Regions from separate parts of the Homo sapiens genome. Here all the other regions are linked to region 2. Evidence: fine-mapped expression QTL. A gene starts in region 2. Each other region holds a variant in brackets. All regions are shown on one strand. Distances are from middle to middle. Region 1 overlaps IL17RA (interleukin 17 receptor A). Region 2 holds the start of IL17RA (interleukin 17 receptor A). Region 3 overlaps IL17RA (interleukin 17 receptor A). Region 4 overlaps HDHD5 (haloacid dehalogenase like hydrolase domain containing 5). Region 5 has its middle 5.1 kb from the start of GAB4.

Evidence for each region. PIP is the estimated chance that this variant, and not a neighbour inherited with it, causes the effect.
Region 1: its variant is fine-mapped to the expression of IL17RA in whole blood (TOPMed, PIP above 0.99).
Region 3: its variant is fine-mapped to the expression of IL17RA in whole blood (INTERVAL, PIP above 0.99).
Region 4: its variant is fine-mapped to the expression of IL17RA in lymphoblastoid cells (GENCORD, PIP 0.95).
Region 5: its variant is fine-mapped to the expression of IL17RA in amygdala (GTEx, PIP 0.93).

What each region holds. Positions count from the first base shown.
Region 1 is chr22:17,104,964-17,108,963 of GRCh38, forward strand. IL17RA (interleukin 17 receptor A) reads left to right here. Exons shown (of 13, transcript NM_014339.7): 10 at 628-639; 11 at 890-991; 12 at 2,764-2,805; 13 at 3,344-4,000. Among named protein-coding and RNA genes, the nearest start is that of TMEM121B, 14 kb to the right of the region's middle. RefSeq lists a silencer at 847-1,047 and enhancers at 1,817-2,036, 1,994-3,193. The variant GGGC/G (reference allele first, on the strand shown) is at 1,893.
Region 2 is chr22:17,083,256-17,087,386 of GRCh38, forward strand. IL17RA (interleukin 17 receptor A) reads left to right here and starts at 1,745. Exons shown (of 13, transcript NM_014339.7): 1 at 1,745-1,974. The coding sequence starts at 1,837. RefSeq lists an enhancer at 805-974 and silencers at 1,528-1,747, 1,768-1,887, 2,138-2,237, 2,278-2,527.
Region 3 is chr22:17,113,336-17,117,479 of GRCh38, forward strand. It overlaps IL17RA (interleukin 17 receptor A), which reads left to right. Exons shown (of 13, transcript NM_014339.7): 13 at 1-2,358. TMEM121B (transmembrane protein 121B) reads right to left here. Exons shown (of 1, transcript NM_031890.4): 1 at 2,962-4,144. Among named protein-coding and RNA genes, the nearest start is that of TMEM121B, 6.0 kb to the right of the region's middle. The variant A/G (reference allele first, on the strand shown) is at 2,097.
Region 4 is chr22:17,135,005-17,139,138 of GRCh38, forward strand. It overlaps HDHD5 (haloacid dehalogenase like hydrolase domain containing 5), which reads right to left. Exons shown (of 8, transcript NM_033070.3): 7 at 3,546-3,734; 8 at 2,516-3,353. The coding sequence ends at 3,017. Among named protein-coding and RNA genes, the nearest start is that of LINC01664, 15 kb to the left of the region's middle. RefSeq lists enhancers at 2,634-3,341, 3,342-4,048. The variant C/CA (reference allele first, on the strand shown) is at 1,872.
Region 5 is chr22:17,011,202-17,015,345 of GRCh38, forward strand. It overlaps the pseudogene IL9RP6. Among named protein-coding and RNA genes, the nearest start is that of GAB4, 5.1 kb to the left of the region's middle. The variant G/A (reference allele first, on the strand shown) is at 2,456.

The sequences.
Region 1 (4,000 bases), 22 kb after region 2:
CTTTAGAGTGTCACTCCCTGGGGCTGGACTCCTGGCTGTCTTTCATTAGCTATGTAGCCTTAGGCAAATTACTTAATCTTTTTGATTCTCAACTTCCTTGACTGGAAAATGAGGTGGTTTTTATCCTAGAGCCCTAGTTCTGTGCCATGCACTGAGCGCAGTGCTCCAACATGCCGTCCATTTTTTCATCCTCACTCATTGTGAGTCACGGTACTATGCAGTAGAGGATCCCCCCACCCCAAACCCCAGGTTCCTGGATAAGGAAACTGAGGCACAGAGATGTTGAATAACTTGTCCAAGATCACACAGCAGGGACGCTGTTTTCAAAAGTCGCATGCCCTAATGCACGGGAGGCTGCAGCCACGTGCTCACCAGAAGGCAAGGCGCAGGCATGGAGCCAGGCTGGAAGGAGAACCCAGCCTCCCAAGGAGGAGGCAAGGTGTCTCTTCTTAGACCAGCAACTCAAGTGTCTCTTGTAGATGGTTTCATTAAGTTCAACCTGGATCTAGAGTGCCTGGTGCAGGGCCAACATCATTAAAGCCCTCAAGGGACGTCAGTTGTGTTTCTTGTGATGACTGGGAAGGGTTAAGAATGCTATTTTCCCTTTTTCCTCTGTTCTCATTGCAGAACCAATTCCGGGTAAGCTTGGATCTCTCTCCGACAGCACTGCAGCCCTCAGGGGACATTCCCCAGTGGCCACTTGAGAAGTCCCTGCCTCAGCCAGGCAGACAAGGCTGAACCGAGGCCAGCCCGGGGTGGGGGGTGAGACCATGGTTTGTCGTGGTGGGGCCAGAGAGGACAGAGCCTGGGGCTGGGGAGCAGGGCTGGGGGCCTCAGGGTGGGCAGGGCAGGCCCCGCCGCATCACTCACGCTGTTCTGCTCACCGCAGACTACATGCCCCTGTGGGTGTACTGGTTCATCACGGGCATCTCCATCCTGCTGGTGGGCTCCGTCATCCTGCTCATCGTCTGCATGACCTGGAGGCTAGCTGGTAAGCGCTGGGGCTCTGGCTGTCCTGGAGTCAGGCTCTAATACCAGCACCACCACTCACTACCAAGGCAAATCGCTTTATTCTCAGAGCCTCAGCTTCTTGCTTGAGAACCACGTCATAAAGCTGTTGTAAGGACTGAGTGAAATAAGACACATGAATTCTTAGCACAGAACCTGGCATGTGCTATTTGCACAGTATCTGTTAGCCACGATTATATTTGTTGTTATCAAATGTAGTATTATTAAAATCAATAGTTTGGAAGGAGCCGGAGTAAAGTTTCCCTGTGTCAGGAATGATCATCCAGGCAGGTGGAGCAGCCTGAACAACCCCATCCTGCAGCCGCCAGACGTGGACGCCTGGGGTCAGGGAGAATAGTGAGGGTCAGCATCGGGTGATAGAGAAGGCTCCGGCTGCCCTGAGCCACAGGGGTGGACCCCAGCCCCACCTCATTAGCCTTGTAGTCACAGGCCAGTTACTTAATACACCATGGATTCACTTTTCTGTAAAATGTACTGATAATGCCTCCCTCTAAGGGTGTGACGAAGGTTAAATGAGTAGCTGAGGAAGGTGCTTGCTGGTGGGGATTAGTACATACCAGTGTCTTCTCCCACCTGCAGCCCTCTGCTGGCCAAGTCCTAAGCCGGGAGAACACAGGCCTTCCGGTTGGGGCTTCAGCCCTTGCCTGCCCCACCATGACCCTAGGCTGCTCCTTCCGTCATCTGGGAAGCTGTTTCCACCCTTCCCTAGGCTCGTCAGGATTAGGTGTTAATCATTATTAATTATTATGTGGTAGAAAGAAAACCAGCCAGGCATGGGAGGACCTATGGGAGGTTCCAATAACATTCAGTAGCATCTCGGCCAGTGCTCCACAGGCGGTGCAGCTCTCTAAAGGTTTGGGGCT[GGGC/G]GGCGGCGGCGCTTTTGGTTTCCTTTCTGCTGTTGCGCTTCTGTTTTCCGAAGTGTCCTGCACCACAGGGTGAAGGCAAGAGGAGCCTCGCTGTTATTTGGCTGTCTTGTGACAGTTCTGGGGAAGAGCTGAAAGGGTTAGGATTGAGATTAAGGTTCTAAGTCGTTTGCTCAGTCATCTGTGGATCTCAATCCTCCCAGCTGTCACTAAGGAGTTAACCCCCGCAGAGCAGTTTTTTCATCACATCTCTGAGGGGAACAATTGCTTAAGTATGTGGGTTCCCCTTCCTCACCTCAAAAATACCAGGAGGAAATGTTGCAAGCAGCCTGGTGGGGCTGCTTCTGGAAAGAAGTGTGGTAAGATGCATGTCTTCTGTAAAGACACTTCTGGGGAAGAGCTTTTCCTCATGTGGAGTCAGTTTGGGGTGGCCAAATTTCAGGGAGACAGGGCAGACCAGGACCGTAATGAGGAACCAGAATGGACACCACCCCCTGCCCCCCGGCACTGGGGGTCCCAGCTGGATCAGTGCTACAAAATAACTGTGATCCCAATTGATTATGTACAACGTGCCAGGCACGTCACATACACACACTCATTTAATACCCATTAAACAAGAGCAAATACAGACCCACCTCACAGAGGAAGAAGCTGCATTTCAGAGGCACTAGTAACTGCTCCAGGTCATAGTGCTCGTAGTGGCAGACCCAGGACTCATGCCTGTGCGACCACCTAGCACGGCCTCGCTGCTCAGTCTCGGGGCTGCCCCCTTACCCTTCACCCTTTGTCAGGGATGGGGCAGACACCCTGTGAGCTGGTTTCTATTTCTCTTCCCAAAGAACCACTCCAGTGTATTTCTTTTCCTTTCCAGGGCCTGGAAGTGAAAAATACAGTGATGACACCAAATACACCGGTCAGTATTTCCTGGTTTGCATGTTTGCTTATTTTTAAAGCAGTGGAGGGTTCTCCTGGGATAAGTGCGTGGGTCGCCTCCTGTGCTCTAACTCCCAAGTCCCTTCAGGAGACCCCACCTTAGAAACCCCCTTCCAGTACCCCACTCAGAAGGGCCCCCAATAACAAGGCCTGGGTGCCATTTTTTGAATCACTCAGACAAGGAAAGAAAGGTAAGTATTTTGTGAACAGAGGTCCTCCCTGGAGCAGACCAACAGAGCTTGGTGCCTCTTTTTCTTTTCTTAATTAAAGTATAGGCTAAAGACCAGCTAGGAACGTTGAGAGATTCTTTTTCCCACAAGGCAGCAGACTGATTTTTTTCAGGCAGCCAAAGGTGGAATAGTAACATCTGGGTTTTTCCAACAGGCCTCAGTTGGGTTTCTCAGCTTAGGGAGGGAGCCAAGCTCTGTGTCCTGGTCCAGGCCCCTCCTGGGCTGGCAGGCACAGAGCTGCCCTGGGCCCTGGGGTGAGGGTCAGCATGTGTGGTCTTGTTTCCTTAGATGGCCTGCCTGCGGCTGACCTGATCCCCCCACCGCTGAAGCCCAGGAAGGTCTGGATCATCTACTCAGCCGACCACCCCCTCTACGTGGACGTGGTCCTGAAATTCGCCCAGTTCCTGCTCACCGCCTGCGGCACGGAAGTGGCCCTGGACCTGCTGGAAGAGCAGGCCATCTCGGAGGCAGGAGTCATGACCTGGGTGGGCCGTCAGAAGCAGGAGATGGTGGAGAGCAACTCTAAGATCATCGTCCTGTGCTCCCGCGGCACGCGCGCCAAGTGGCAGGCGCTCCTGGGCCGGGGGGCGCCTGTGCGGCTGCGCTGCGACCACGGAAAGCCCGTGGGGGACCTGTTCACTGCAGCCATGAACATGATCCTCCCGGACTTCAAGAGGCCAGCCTGCTTCGGCACCTACGTAGTCTGCTACTTCAGCGAGGTCAGCTGTGACGGCGACGTCCCCGACCTGTTCGGCGCGGCGCCGCGGTACCCGCTCATGGACAGGTTCGAGGAGGTGTACTTCCGCATCCAGGACCTGGAGATGTTCCAGCCGGGCCGCATGCACCGCGTAGGGGAGCTGTCGGGGGACAACTACCTGCGGAGCCCGGGCGGCAGGCAGCTCCGCGCCGCCCTGGACAGGTTCCGGGACTGGCAGGTCCGCTGTC
Region 2 (4,131 bases):
TCAGTGTCTTGCACTGGGCAGAGGCCTTTCTCATTCTCTGCCACTTGGGCCCCAGCATGGCTTCCCTAAGAGCTAGGAGCTCAGAGGGAGGGGCTGGGCAAGACAGAAGTCAGGATCTTTTTGTAACTTAATCTTGTAAGTGACATCCCATCATTTTTGTCTTCTTCTATTCATATTCTATTGTTAGAACCAAGCCTCTGGGTCCATCCCACACTCCGCGAGGAGGATTCAGAAGGTCGTGACTCCCAGGGGGTGGGATCCTAGAACACATCTTAGAAGCTGCCTACGACAACCGCTGATTTTTAAGTAACAGTTACATCCTCTACATCTATTTAGACTTAGGATGGAGAATTTTAGATGTCATCTTTAAAATGCATGAGAGGATGCAGTTTTCCAAAATTCTTTTAGAAACAGACAATTTGAAGGCCACTGAGCTTCAGGCTTCATTCAGCTGGGTCGTGTCTGCGGGCGGGGCTCATAGAGATGTCGCTGGGGGTCAGCGGGTGCTTCGGGCAGCGAAAAAACCCACCTCTCGAGGGCAGTGGAAAATACAGGGAAAAGCCACTTGAGTGTAGACTCCGTGCGTGTCAAGGCCAGGCAGAGGCGCACTTGATAGGCAAGGAAAAGCGGACGGTGGTGGTCTTGGGAGGAAGAGAGGAGAGGCGAATGGGCAGGAGCGTGTGGATGCACTAGGGCAGGACGGGCTCGAAGCAGGAACCTAGGATAGAGGCAGCGCGGGCCGGCTTGGGAGGGTCCTCCAGGGTCCGGAGAGGAGAGGACGCAGGCTGCACGCGTGCTAAGAAGGAGACTCATGAAATGTGTAATTCGCTGGCGACAGCTTCCGCGGCCGTGGAGTGAGCCTCTGGGAAGTAACGACTCTCTTAGGTGCGGCTGGGACACAGTCTCACAGACCAGGTAAGTTGCCTGCCCTCCAGGAACTCAAGTGTCCCCGAGTCCGAGCCAGGAGGCTGGAAGTGACTGCTGTCCCATCCTCCCTGGAGCCCGGAGCTGTCCTTGTCTTGAGAAAGAGAAAGCAAAGCCAAGGAAAGCAGAGCGAGCAGAACCAGGCAAAGGGGTGGGGACAATAAAATGGGATATGGCCCGCGCTTCCATCTACTCAGGAGGCAGAGGCAGGAGGATCGCTTGAGCCCGGGAGGCCGAAGCTGCAGTGAGCTGCGGTTGCACCACTGCACTCCAGCCTGGGAGACAGAGGGAGACCCTGTCTAAAAATAAAGTAAAATAAAAAACAAAAATAAAAGGGACAGAGACTAAGAAAACGGACTTCCTGAAATCCCAAGTTGGGATTTCACGTCCAGTGACCCACAAGAGAAGCAAGAAGTCTGAACAGGGCCAAGAATCAAGTGAGTGGGGGCGGAGGATTAAAATCGACAGTTGCTGCGGCACGGCCAGGGTGGAGGGTGCATGTGGGGCAGGCGAGGCTCCAGCTGGAGTTGACGCTAGCCCGACGCGGGTGCAACTGGAGGCGCGACGGGCCAGGCCCAGGAGCAGCGGGAGGAGCGCACCTGGGGCGCGCGGGCGGAGGAGGGCCGGGGAGGGACGCCGGAAGGACTGGGTAGGGACGCCCGGAGGACTGAGCGTAGGGCCGAGAGGAGGGGCGCAAGGAGGAACGGGGGGAGGGCCCTGTCTCACCCTAAACCCCTCCCCGTCCCAGACTAAACTCCTCCCCTCGGCCCGGCCCGCCCCTGGGCCCGGGCTGGAAGCCGGAAGCGAGCAAAGTGGAGCCGACTCGAACTCCACCGCGGAAAAGAAAGCCTCAGAACGTTCGTTCGCTGCGTCCCCAGCCGGGGCCGAGCCCTCCGCGACGCCAGCCGGGCCATGGGGGCCGCACGCAGCCCGCCGTCCGCTGTCCCGGGGCCCCTGCTGGGGCTGCTCCTGCTGCTCCTGGGCGTGCTGGCCCCGGGTGGCGCCTCCCTGCGACTCCTGGACCACCGGGCGCTGGTCTGCTCCCAGCCGGTGAGACTCGACGTGGGGAGCGGTAGCCGCCAGGATGCTGCGGACGCGGGGCAAGGTCGCGGAGGGCCGGACGGTCGGGACTACGCGCCCGGGCTGGGGAGGCAGGAAGTCCGCGCCGCGGGCTTAGAGGGGCTCAGAGCCTTGGGCACAGATATCGCGGCGCCTGGGGAGGACCCTCGGAGCGGTGGGAGTTGCGGTGTGGAATACGGGGGGGGTGGGTGGCACATCGCGCGGCGCGTGTTGCACAACCTGGCCCGCCGTCGTGACTGGAGGCGGGAGTGACACCTCCGCCCGGGCCGCGGAGTTCGGGGAAGGAGGGCGCGGCGCTGGGCCAGGCCGGAGGGGCGGCCAGGGCTGATAGAAAGGGGCTGTGGAGAAGGGGCCCGGGGAGGAGCCAGGACGGGTCTGGACCCAGCTCCACGCCTTGCGCCCCTCACGTACCCCGGCGGGGCACGGTCGGCCCTCGGGAGGCCCATCGCGCCCTCGGGAGCTTCCCTCAAGCCGTGCCCTTCATGCCGCCGACGGAGCCGGGCGAGCCCACGTCGTCCGTGCGGAAGGTGGAGTCCCTCACCCGCGGCCCCCAGAGGGACCCCGCTGTCGTAGAGCCACGCGGGGGCCGGAGCGCTGAGACGCGGCACCATGTTTCGGGGAGAGCTCTGCCGAGGGCGGCTGAGGGCCACCTCCCCAGAGGCGCGAAGCCCTGAGGATGGGCAGATGGTTCTTAAGACGGCGCCCTTCCCGCCACTCCCACCCCCGACTACCACCACCTGGGTCTGGGAACCCGGTGAGAGCGCAGTCGGAGGGTCGAACGTTTGTAGCTGTCAAGTCGTAGCCCCGCTGCGCCCACAGGAAGTGACCCACCCGCCTGCCGGGTAGTGGCCTTTCTGTGAGCCAGGACCATCTTAAGGAAAAAAACAAAAAAAGAGCAAAACGCCGTGCCCCTCCACAATATACTCTCCTCTTCCCCGCATCCCCGAGGGGATCTTTCCTCCCCTCCACCTCCACCTCCACCTCCACCGCTGACCCCAAGGAATAATGCTCAGTATCTGAGTCAGAGGATGTAAAACAAAGGGATATTTCTCCTTATGTAGTTTTATGGAGGATTTACCGAAAGAAGGTGGAGGGTGAGTGACTATGTCGCAGAAAAAAAAAAAAAGATGTTTTTATCGTGAATGATGTTGAGAAATGTCCTGTGACTTCCACTATTGGGCAAAGCAGGTCCCTCTGCCCTGCTAGTCCCTCCTGCAGGCTGTGTATGAAGCGTTCTGATATGGAGGGTTGGTGCGCCTGGGTTGACAGCCATTGGTCAGGTGCCTGCAGAGTACAGGGCGCCATACTGGGAACTGGAACTATAAATAAATACTCTGGGGACCCTAATATCCAGAGACCTAACCCATCTACGGGAGGAACAAGGCTTGAAGTTAGGGAACTGTCTAGCAAAGCTGCTTGCACAACTGCTAAGTGTACGGAATTCCAGGAAAAAGAAAAATTGCTTCCAGTTGGGGTGTCCTTCATGGAAAAGGCATTTGGGCAGCCCTGTGGGGGTAGCAGGAGCATTCCAGGTGGTGGAAAGGGCCTGAGCCAAGGTCCTTAAGTGGGACAGGGTACGGTGTGTGGCCGGAATGGAGGGTCTGTGTAATAGGACAGTGAGAAAAGATGCCAGAAGCGGGGATGGGACTCTGCTGTGCGTGGCGTGGGAGCCAAGCTCTGACTTTCACTGCACAGTGAAGCAACTGTAAGTCAGGAGCAGAAGCACGGCCTGGCTCCAGGGAGGGCTGAAGAGAGACACTTGCTGTTCATATTTGTCTGCAGTCTCTCGTTCTCTTCCTTCCTCTCTCTCTCTTCTGTATACACCTGCCTCACAGACAGCTCTTCTCCAGAGATAGACAGCTCTGGGCTCCATTGACTAGTTCTTTTAAAAAGAAAGAAAACACATCCTTCAAATTTCTGTCCCTCACTGGTGTTTTAGTGGATGCAATGTGGTATAGTGAGGGGAGGGAAGGCCACAGAGGTGGCCAGAGGACCTGGATTTGCAGGCAGCATCGCACTTACTGTCTCTGCAGTCGGGCTTTGAGGCTGCCTGGGCCTGGGTTCCCTCATTTCCACAAAGGCAGGACTGGGTGAGCCTTCTCAAAGTAAGTCCATGCCACCTTCCAG
Region 3 (4,144 bases), 30 kb after region 2:
GCGTGCACCACTGTGCCCGGCTAATTTGTGTGTATATATTTTGTAGAAATGGGGTTTCACCATGTTGTCCAGGCTGGTCACGAACTCCTGGGCTCAAGCCATCTGCCCGCCTCATCCTCCCAAAGTGCTGGGATTATAGGCCTGAGCCCACCGTGCCTGGCCTTTCCTGTTTATCTTTGAAAATTAAATAGGGCATAAGAGAGAAGAAGATGTACTTACAATGCAGTGGGTGGTTTTAACTCTATAGCCTTTGGGCTCTGTGGTTGGTGCTCCCCTTCCTAAATAAATGAGGTGTATGCAGGGCCCTCTTCTGCCTTAGCGCCCTGCCAGCTGGGACTCCAGCAAGGCCCGGGGCACCTGAGGACAGAGTGAGATGGAGGGCCGCTGCTCCAGCAGCCGGGCCTGCATCCCACAAGTCAACTGTGTCGGACAGAGGATCCTTACAAAGAAGAGGCAGCAGGGTTGGGGGCTGGCCAGCTGCTCGTCCGCCCTAGGTAGCTTGCTCATCTGTAAAGTGGGTGGGGCAGGAGTTCCCACCTCATGGGGTCCTGGCAAGCCTGCAGTATCCCCGAGTGGCACCAGCCTGCTTCTGGGGCAGAGCAGTTTGTGCCCCCTGAGGTACCACTGATCCTCTTTCCCTGCTATTAGGTATTGCTCTCTTCCTCCGGTGTTTGCCTTTTCAGATTATAGAAGTAATATGTGTTCCCATATTTGGCGTCTCTCAGGAGCTCAGGAAGTACTTGGCTGAGTGAACATGTCCATTGTGGAAAAATGGCAACAATATGGATTCCATGGGTATATTTTATAGAAGAATATGAAGAAAAGCAGCTACCCCTAAACCCATTGCACAAGCTGTTCATGTTAATTCTGTACCCGACGCTTTCCCCACGGGGCCTCCCCTCACTCTGAAATGGCATCCAGGTCCATCTTGCCCTCCACCTCTGCATGGCTCTCCATGCCCCATCGCCTCTCCCAGATCCTAGCACTGGGTCCACACTCTCGCCCTGTCCATTTAGGTTGATGAAAGCAGGCAGTCACCCGGGTGGGCCAGTCTTGCCTGTGGGAGGAACATGCAGTCTCCTGTCTCATGGTTTGAAGTGTGCCAGGAAGCCTGGCCCAGCCCACCTCCCCCTGGAGTCCTTCCCAGGAGGAATAACCCCTTAGGTCATTGACTATAAGATGAGTTCGCTCACTGGATCCTTCCTCTCTGATGAGACAGGAAGAAGGTACACAGTGACCAGGTAGGAGGAGGAGAGGGAGTAGAAAGGAGGGATGCGGGTGGCTGGTCCCTGCATTTGCCTGCTTCCCTGCACGGGTGTCCCACTGGCCGCCTCTGCTCACCAGTGTCATGGGATTCTCTCAGAAGATGAAAACAGCCCCTGCTTTTTTGCTAGAATGGCTGAGCTTTCATGGAAAGGAAGCTGGACCCAAGCAACAGCCGACTACCGAAGGTTGCCTGGAGCAGTGCAGATGTGGGAGGAAGAAGGGCCTTGGTGCACACTGGCTTTTCTTCCTGACTGCAATGTGGCATTGTGCCAGCTACCTCCTCTTTCTCGGCCTCAGGAAAATGGAGAGAAAGCAGCCCTGAAGGTGGCTGTGACGAGGGAAGGGGCAGAGGGCCTGACAGTCAACCACGCGCTATATTTTCCTGTTCTTCCTTAGGGCAAGAACTGCATGGCCAGACTCAGGCAAGGCCTAGGTGTGGGCTGGGCATTGCCTACACGTGAAGAGATCACTCCGCGTCCCTACTGCACCTGTCACAAAGTGCCTTCTGATATGCCTGGCAAACCAAAATCGGTGAGCGCCAGCTTGCTTCCCTAGAAGACATTTCTAAATATTCATAACATGCTTGCTCAAATCAATCACCTTATTTTACATCCGCTCCAGGGAGAAATGAAGACATGGTCCTACGTTGTTCTGTAATTATTTTCTATGTAAATTTTGTTCCTTGTTACAATTATATATGTCTTAGGGGAAAGGACCATTTCACATGTGTCACCTCATGTGATTCTCACCACAGCCCTGTGATTGCTCCTGTTTTATAAATAATGACATAGTTCCAGTTGATGGCCAAAGCCACAGCTAACGAGAGGCAG[A/G]GAGAGCTCAGGCTCCCAGGAGCTTCCACTCTCAGACCTTGCCTCCCGGGCTGCCCTGAGTGAAACGCCTGCTTAGCATTTGGCACAGCCAGAAGCAGCAAGCTAGGGTCACAACACAGAGAGGGGCTGTGTAATACTGGCTGCCTCTGTGCTAAGAAAAAAAAAAAATCACTGTGTGTTTGTTTATTTTGGTGCAGGCCCAGTGTTCTTGCTTAGACTTAATACTACCCTTCATGTTAAAATAAAACCAAACAAAAACCCATGGCCTTGTTCTTCTTATTCATACGTAAGAATTTGTGCTTCTGGCTGGGGCAAGAGTGATAGAGGAGGGCACAGTATTTAAAAATTAGTTTCTCAAGATGTTCCCCCTTTGGAAAGCTACTCTTTTAGAAAGAAATGGGAAGCCGGGCGTGGTGGCACACTTCTGTAGTCCCAGCTACTTGGGAGGCTGAGGCAGGAGGATTGTTTGAGCCCAGGAGGTTGAGGCTGCAGTGAACTATGATGGCGCCACTGCACTCCAGCCCAGGTGACAGAGTGAGACCCTGTCTCAAAAACAAAGAAAAAGAAAGAAGGAAGGAAAGAAAAGTGAGAGAGAGCCGAGGGTGATGAGAAAAAATCGTTCTCAGGCTGAGTCCATTAGAGCTGAGCTGGCTGTGCCAACAAAGCATGTCAAGACACTCACCAGCTCCAGGCCACAGCTTCACTGCCTCCCTGAAAAACATGCCAACTGCCTAGAAGGGCCAAGGTGTACCCATAATGTTAACACAAACTTATAAAATAATGGCGAATGTCACAGTGACATTTAAGAATTTTGTAAGGAAACCAGGACAGAAAAGATCTTAAAACAAACCACACAGGAAGCTTGTCACAAGTCTCAAGTTTTTTATTTTCAGAACAGAGTCTGGTTTTATTTTTAAAAAGAGAAGGAAAAAAGTGATAAATGCTAGTGAGGTGCCACTTCCCTCCTTCTTCCAGGCTCTAACCGCCAGCTAGCTCTCTTTCACAAAACCCACGGATGCAGAATCAGGACATGTTAAAATGGAACAGTCTTTAGAGAGGGTCTAGTCTTTTTAAAATAAGTAAGGATTTGGGGACTAACAGAGAGGAAGCCCCTGACTTGCTGAATTGTTAGGAGCAGGCGGTTCTCGAGATTCTGAGCCCAGGATCCTTTTCTGTGAACCATGCACGTGCTGGCACTGGCCTCAGGAGACAGTGCCCTGCCTTGGCTGTCAGGTCCACGGAGAAATCTCAGGTTTGCCCCTTCACTAGGGATGCCCTAGAAAGCAAGGGCAAAGGAAGCTTTAGGGGTCATCGTGACTGGGGCAGGGGAAGTGAGTGCAAGGACTCAAGAAAAACACAGCAGAGGAAGGGACTGACCCTCTGAGCACACAGTGGTTGACCCACATGTGTAAAAGAGGGTGACTGGGGCTGAACTGGGGGCCTGATATCTGCCAGAATTGGCCAAGTTGCCATCAGCTTCTTGACATATCCAGGGAAGTGGCAGCTCATTGGAACTTATCACAGCCTCCCACCAAAAACCTAACAAACAGTACAGAGATTTTACAGTCAGGGAGGCCCAGCAGGAGATGGCCATCCAAACAATAGAAGGGGGGCAGATCAGGGGGCCAGCCAGCGGCTGGCCATGGCTCAGACACAATGTCCTTTCACAGTCACTGAGATTAGGTAGCAGAGAAACACAGCAAAGCTGGAGAGAGGACATGGGAACAGCGAGCAGCTGTTGGTACCCACCCAGGGCCCAGGCCCCAGAACCTTGAGTACAATCAAAGGGAGAGGAGAGGAGTCAGTGGGGGCAGGGGAAGAAGGCAGAAAAAAATACCAATTAAGTGTGAAATCCAGCCAGCTATTGGGCCACATAGGGTGAGGGACTGGAAGCACAGATTGTGCATGGAGTGTAAACATTTTCCCCCGCTGTTCCCTGCTCTGAGAGCATGAGGAGGCTCAAGAGAACTCTGGTCAAGCCTTCTGCCCCTCTTATGTCTGTCTACAAGGGTGTCTTCTGCTCCAAGCCCCCAAAACAGTTGTAAGAG
Region 4 (4,134 bases), 52 kb after region 2:
CACTGAGCCAAAACCTCGCCATTGCACTCCAGTCTGGGGCACAGATCGAGACTTCATCTCAAAAAAAAAAAAAAAAAAGGAAAAGGAAGGGATGGCATGTGCCACATGGACACCGTGGCCCGGCAGAGGGGCTGCGAGAGGCCCTAGGCAGGAGTGAACGTGGAGAAGGGTGGCGTGTGTGAATGATGATGGGGAAAGCAGCAGGTGAGGTCCCGGGGGTAGCGGTGGGACAGGATGAAGAGGCATTTGTGCCATGGTAAGAAATCACTGCTTTTGCTCTGACTGAGACGTCACTGGAGGGCTTTCATCAGAGAACAGACCACGTGATCTGCCAATGAGTGAGCAGAGCAAGTGGGAAAGAAAAGGGCGGAGGCAGGGAGGCCATGAAGTGTGGCTGTAACAGCTCAGGTGAGGCCAGGGGCCTAGTTGGGGCGGGGCGTGGTGGGTAGCAGAGCTCACTTGGGAAATTAAGAGGAGCTCAGCAGGACGCCAGGCCCTCGGCCTAGACAAGGAGAGGAAGGAGCTGCTGCAGCCACCTAAGCTGGGGAAGACAGTTAAGCAGGAGGTGTGGACTGCGCTCAGTGTCTGGTCGTGGACACAGCAACACTTACACCGAGGGAATGAGCACAGCTCCTCAGCACTCAGCCACTCAGCCTCCAAGACACCGGCTCTCCTGTTTCATAGCCACTCTCTCAACCTCCTTTGCTCCCTAACCTCTAAACACCTCTGAGGCATCCAAGCAAAGGTGTCAAGAAATCAGCTGAGGGCCGGGCGCGGTAGCTCATGCCTGTAATCCCAGCACTTCAGGAGGTCAGGCAGGCGGATCACCTGAGGCCAGGAGTTTGAGACCAGCCTGGCTAACAGTGAAACCCCATTTCTACTAAAAATACAACAAATTAGCTGGGTGTGGTGGCACGTGCCTGTAATGCCAGCTACTCAGGAGGCTGAGGCAGGAGAATCGCTTGAACCCGGGAGGTGGAGGTTGCAGTGAGCCGAGATCACGCCATTGCACTCCAGCTTGGTAAACAAGAGCAAAACTCCCGTCTCAAAAAAAAAAAAAGAAAGAAAGAAATCAGTTAGGCCGGGAGCAGTGGCTCACGCCTGTAATCCCAGCGCTTTGAGGGGCCAAGGAGGGTGGATCACTTGAGGTCAGGAGTTTGAGACCAGCCTGGCCAACATGGCGAAACCCCGTCTCTACCAAAAATACAAAAATTAGCTAGTCAGGCGTGGTGGCGGGCGCCTGTAATCCCAGCTACTCGGGAGGCTGAGGCACAAAAATTGCTTGAACCTGGAGGTGGAGGCTGCAGTGAGCCGAGATCATGCCACTGCACTCCAGCTTGGTAAACAAGAGCAAAACTCCCGTCTCAAAAAAAAAAAAAAAAGAAATCAGTTAGGCCGGGAGCAGTGGCTCACGCCTGTAATCCCAGCGCTTTGAGGGGCCAAGGAGGGTGGATCACTTGAGGTCAGGAGTTTGAGACCAGCCTGGCCAACGTGGCGAAACCCCGTCTCTACCAAAAATACAAAAATTAGCTAGCCAGGCGTGGTGGCGGGCGCCTGTAATCCCAGCTACTCGGGAGGCTGAGGCACAAAAATTGCTTGAACCTGGAGGTGGAGGCTGCAGTGAGCCGAGATCATGCCACTGCACTCCAGCCTGGGTGACAGAGTGAGACTCCATCTCAAAAAAAAAAAAAAAAAAAAAAAAAGAGTAGTCAGGTGGAGAGAGCCAAGAGGGCTTTAAGAATGAGGGAAGGAGGCCGGGCGTGGAGGCTCACACCTGTAATGCCAGCACTTTGGGACACCAAGGCAGGCAGATCATTTGAGGCCAAGAGTTTTAGACAAGCCCGGCCAACATGGTGAAACCCTGTCTCTAC[C/CA]AAAAAAAAAAAAAACATTAGCCAGGCGTGGTGGCATGTGCCTCTAGTGCCAGGTACTCAGGAGGCTGAGGTGGAATTGCTTGAACCCGGGAGGTTCAAGTGAGCCATGATCGTGCCACTGCACTCCAACCTGGGTGACAGAGCAAGACTCCGTCTCTAAAAAATAAAAAAAGAACAAGGGAGGGAGGCATCAGCTATGTCAAACACAAACAGCTACTGGAGTAAAATGAGGACGAGAACTGACTGGGGGATTTGCAGATGCTGAGGCCATGGGTGACACAGACAAATGAAGAAATGAAGTTGGTTACTCCTAGAGGAAGGGATGCAAGAAGCGGCATGTTTTCTAGAATCACTGCAGGAAGAGCTGCTTCCTTTAGAACAAACCAGTAACAAGATCCCTCTTCTTTTCCACACCAGGGAAGTTGCTAAGTATATGCCAAAGCCAGGCATACTCATTCATAGACAGCCTCAGGCTTCACAGCCCAGAATGGGTGTGGACTTGGGGGCGGGAGGTAGGAAAGGAGATGTGGGCACCTCGTGGAGCTGAAATGCCACCCATCTCCCAGACCCTGGGCCGCCCACACCACTCACTCCTCCTTTCCCCACAGGACTTTTAGTGCACTCCAGACAGAGCTTCACAAGAGTCAGCATCATGAACATTTATTATGATTATTTTATTTAAAAAAAAAGCCCCACATCTCCGGGCAATAAACTACAATACAGTAAAAAGTAGCATCTGGTGTTAAGACACTCTGCCGACAGGCTGCATGCCTTCAGTGCCGGCAAAGGCTCTGCACAGACATCCACAGTATTCCACACTGCCTCCCCCATTTCAGAAGTCCCTACTGAAATGAGAAGGACACTGAGGCACACAGGGGAAGAGAATGGCCTGAGGTTAGACTGCCACGAAAGGCACGTGGGAACTGGGCCCAGAAAATTCCAACCGTTCCATACAAAATGCTACCCAGCAGGGAAAAAGAGTCACTGTCTTCTTCCAAGTGACCAGTAATGCCACACTCATGGGGCAGCAAGAAGGGTGGCAAGGGAACCAAGCCCTGACCTGAGCCCAGTGATCAGGCCAGAGCCCAGCCAATGGGACTCGCCCACAGGTCCAGGCTCACCCCCTCACCTCCACCGCACTGCCCTCACTCCAAAGCCCAGCCCTCCTTGCGGAAGACCAGCTGCACAGCCTCATTCACGTCATTCACCACGTGGGAGGCCTCCATGAGCCCTGGACTGAAGCATAAGTCTCGGTGCCCGTGGAATGGAGGCTCCCCTCCTCCAAGGACAGGCTCCGTGGACTGTGGGTTCCTGGGATTGTAGACGCCTGTACACACCAGGATGGAGATGCAGCTCTGGCTTGCTGAGGGCTGTTGCTGCCGTGTGCCCCCGGCCCCTAGTTCTGGCGCCCCATCATGCGTTGCCTTCTGCAGGTACTGGTGGAACAGGTTGGCGCCGTATACGTCAGACATAGGGTTATCACTGGCAGGGGCAGCCACACCGGAAAAGGAAAAAGGAGAAAAAACCCTAAATCAATGTTGCAAAGCAAAGGGAGCAGAGAAGAGTTTCGGGGCAGAAGAGTGAATTAGATATAGGGAAATGGGGGTGAGAGTAGAGGAGGAGGGAGAGAAGGGGATGTCATAAAAGGGACAAAGGAGGGAGAGCAGAGCCTACCCCACAGCATAGAGCTTCCGGATGGGGGCGGCCCAGCCCCGCCTCTCCGCCTGTCGCCTGATCAGGTCCTCGGCATACTGGTAAGTGAGGATGCTGGGTTTGCCCATCAGGCCCTCGTATCTCAGCTCCTTGCCCGTCACTTTCTGGTAAATGGTTTCCAGGCACAGCAGAAAGGTGCCATGTCCAAACCTGCCAGAAACGAGCACGCAGCAGTTCAGTCTTCCTGATCTCCAGGCTCTTCTAGAGAACACGACTGCCACTGTCTAAGCAGCAAACACACAGACCAGCCTTTTCCCCAGGGTAAGAGCTGACATGTAGCAGACACTGTGCAGGCACTGGAGGCAGCATTTCACATTTCCCTCTCAGAAAAACTCTATGAGATGACGCTATTTGTAAAACGAGGAAACCAAGGCACAGCAAGATTAAGTAACTTGTTCAAGAGGGCAGAGCTAGGATTACAACTCAGTCTGACTCCAGAGCTTAAATCCTGCTGTAGAGCTGAGGCAGACTACGGTTGCGCTTCTCCCCTTCTTTGCTGGTGTCCATTTTCAGCTGACCATATTGCCACTAGGTGTGAAAAAGACCTTCG
Region 5 (4,144 bases), 72 kb before region 2:
AGCAGTGTTATTGCTATGAACCAACTAAAATTCCTGAGGAATTGTATCTGCCCCTTCCCTGCCCACCTTGTTTTGCCTTTAAAAATCAGCTCATAACTGCTGCTAATTGCAGTGTATATTCAGGATAACTTGAATCTATGCTCCAGAGTTGCAATCCTGAAGTTTGTCTCAAATAAACTCTCTACTAAGATTAACTTTGTCTCAGCTTCTTCCTTGTAGGGTGACACCAGGATCTCCTTTCCTGGTGCTGCAGGGCTTCCCTGGACCCTGTGCAGCAGAGATATCCCCTCCACACAGTATTGCCAGCATATTATGTAGAAAAATCATTTTCCCTTTCAACAGGAAGCCCAGTTCTTAGGATTGTTGTTCAAAAATATAATTTAAAGCTTAAAACTGAGCACTTGGGTCTTGGCAGATTTCCCATCTTTCCTCACAGTGGCAAATGTGACTGTCAAGAGCCTGGGCAGCTGAGGACAAGTCTGAGCGGGGCAGAGGTTGTGATCGTACCCTGGCCTGTGTCATCCCCTTGCAGACACCAGCCCTTCTCTATAGAACCAGGGCATCTGCCAGGGATTATTTAGGCCTTGGGTGAGGGTCTGGCAGGGAGCAGTGCAGTGATGGAGGGTGTGGTGTGTGTGTGGCGTGTTGGATGGATACTTCTGGTCCCACCTAGGGAAGAGCTTCCTTTTGGAAGCAGAGGTCTCCTGTGTCCCCACAGAAGGATTCAGGTCTGCTGGCCTTTCCCAAGCACCTTGAAAGTCACCAGTCTTCGTGTCACCTGTCCGTCATGCTATGTGTGTGTGAGAGAGAGAGACAGAGAAAATTGTTCAGGTGGGGGTACCCAGTCTCTGTAGCTGCTGAAAGGCCCTGGGACACATGCTGCATGCTGCCAAGTGTTTGTTTTTTCCTCAGCACATGTCACCATCTGTACCCTGGTGCAGGCTGCTGTGAGCACCAGGCTCTGTGCTAGGGGAGCAGTGAGGGGACTTGAAGAGACTCAGGGTCCCATGTTGAGGCTGAGCTGGCACATAGTAAGGAAGACAGAATGCTCCTGGCACAGGTGCTGCTTGGCCTCTGGGTGTGGACATCAGGAGGGCTTCTTGGAGGAGGAGGGAGGGCTTGCTGAGGAGGAGGCTGCCACTCCCAGGGTGAGTTCTGATCATGCTGCCTGATCCCTTTCCTCATCCCATACTCTGCTTCTAACCTGGATGGGGGCCCACAGGGCCAGCGTGCAGCTGAGCCAGGACTGTGCCAGCACCTCGCAAGGAGCCTTGGAATTCAGTGTGCGAGAGGCCACTGCAGTACTCACCTGTGACTCAGCATGTCCCTGGAAATCTGTCAGCCTGGAGGAGAGCAGGAGGGCATGGGGACACCTCCTAGGGGCCCCAAGTTTGGAGGATATGCTGCCAGCAGAGTGTGAGGAGTGAGAGGCACCGCTGCCTGCCTACCTGCCACTGGAGGACCAGGCCCCTACATCCCCGACAAGCCTGCTCACCGAGACTGAGTGGGGTAGCAGTGGCTACTATGCCTTGGGCTGCTCTGGAGGGATGCAACCCTTCAGCCCTCTCAGGAAGCACATGGAGCCCTGAACCCATCCCAGCCCTGCCCCATGGCCTGTCACATGACCACTGGGGCTTGGAGACCTAGCGAGGAGGTACCTGGGCGGTGAATGGTCCAAGCTAGAGGCATGGGCTGCACAGGGACATCCAGGGCCCACAATCCCCTCCTGTCTTCACCATGGCTCAGTCCTGAAATTTCTAGGGCCCAGACACAGCCACCTGCATCGTGTCCATCTTAGGGAAGATGGACAAAAGTCTCTGGAGCTGGCCCTTGGCTGGGACAGGACCTCCTGAGAAGGGGCCTCTAGCAGTGGTCAGAAGTCCTGCCTGGATGGAGGCTGGAAGCTCCTCCTTGCCCGACCTGCTCAGCACCTGTGGGGAGGGGCCTCTGCCCTCAGCATCCTGCCCACAGCACCACATTCTCCTGTCCCCTTTCTGGCTTTATCTATAGCCACTCTGAGAAAAGAGGTGTAGTCTCCCAGCCTGTTCTGCTCTTACCCCTTAAAGGGCCAGCATGGGGCCAGTGGACACAGGTGAGACACCATAACCTGGAAGTGGTGACCTCTCCATGCCTTCCTGAGGCACCTTTCGTAGATATTAAAAGGTGCATAATGGCTTTTCCAAAGTGCTGATGCCTGGGAGGAGAGACCAAGGGAGGGGTGGAGTTTGGCCAGGCCTGGTGGGCTTTCTAGGCTCCAAGAACAGCAGGGTGCAGACTCAAACCAGCTCCAAGATAGTAGGGTGGAACATCAATGACAGCTCTGGGGACAGCGGAGTGGAGGCGCAAGGACAACTGCAGACAGTGGGTTGGAGGCTCACATGATCCAGCACTTCCCTTCTGGGTGTCTACACAAAGAAATTCAAAGCAGAGTCAAAGAAGTATTTGTACATCTATG[G/A]TCATAGCAGAATTATTCACTAATAGCTTAAATGTGGAGACAACTCTAATGTCCATGACAGATGAATGGATATGTGGTCTATACACATAATGGAATATTCTTCATTTCTCAAAAGGAAGGTAATTCTGACAAATAATATTAAAATAACCCTGAAGATATTAGAGTAAGTGAAATAAGTCAGAAAAGACAAATACCATAGATTCTGCTGTTATAAGGTCCCAAGAATAGTCAAATGCATACAGACAGAAAGTAGAATGGTGCTTGCCTGGGGCTGGGTGGAAGGGAGAACAGAGAGCTATTGTTTAATGACAGAGGGTTTCAGTTTTACAAGTTGAAAAGAATTCTGGAGATGGATGGTGGTAATGGTTGCACAACCATATGAATGTTAATATTACTGAACTGTTCACTTAAGCAAGGTTAAACTACTATAGTTTATGTTATGTGTATTTTAACACAATTTTAAAAATTGGAAAATAAAACACCTAGAGCCATGATCTCTAAGGCCGTATGTGTTCTGCCCCTATTACTCCTCACTCACTCCATTCCAGCTCCACTGGCCTTTTTCTGGCTCCTCAGACATGCCAAGCACTCCCTGCCTCGGGGCCTTTGCAGTGTCTGTTGCCCTCACGTGGAATGCTCTTCCCACAGATCTCTCTATGACTCTCTCTCTCTCACTTGCTCTGCTCTAATGTCTCTTTTTCAGTGAGGCCTTTCCTGATCACCCTACAGAAAAGCACCCAGCAATATTCTCTATTCCTTTTCCTTGCCTTGTCTTGGTAGCACTTGCTCCTTGCTGACATATAGAAAAAATATGTGTTTATGCAATGGTGAATATGATGACCACAGATTTTTCCCCAGCCCTGTTCTAGGCAGAGACTGGGAAATGGGTCATTCCTGTCCCCTATTCCAATTCTCTCCTTCTATAATGGCTTATTTTTCCTTTTTAATGTTCTAACCTAATGTTGAGCAATTTCAGTTGATTTTTTCATAAGCTGGAAGGTCCATGAAATCTGTTTCTATGGCCATTATTTTCTCAAACACTGCAGTGTCTTTTTTCAGTGTTTTCCATATATAATGATATTCCTAGGAATATCTCCTTGGCCTTCCTATCTAAATTCACCCAATGTGGTGTTCTTCATATTTCAAGTGAATTCAATACTGCCTTCATAATTGTTGGCCCCTTTAAACTTTTATTGTCCCTGATAGGTAGGTGCTCATCTTATTGGTTAAATGATTTCGGCAATTTCCCTTTTTAATTATTTTTATTTTTATTTTGAGACAGGGTCTCAGTCTGTTGCCCAGGCTGGAGTGCAGTGACATGATCTCAGCTCACTGCAGCCTCGACATCCCAGGCTCAAGCAATCTTCCCACCTCAGCCTCCCAAGTAGTTGGGATTACAGACATGTGCCACAGCACTCCACTAATTTTTTTCTATTTTTTTCTATTTTTGTAGAGACAGGATCTTGTTATGTTTCCCAGACTGGTCTGTAACTCATACACTCAAGTAATCAGCCCATCTGGGTCTCCCAATGTGCTGGGATTACAGGCCCAGCCTAAAATGTCTTTTTGATAGAGTGATTTTGAAGATTAAGCAGGCTAGTGGGTCAAGCACGTAGTACAACATTTGAAGCCCAAAGGCAGGGAGTGTGAGCCCCAGGTGGTGGTGGCGGGGATGAAAGGAGAAGCAGG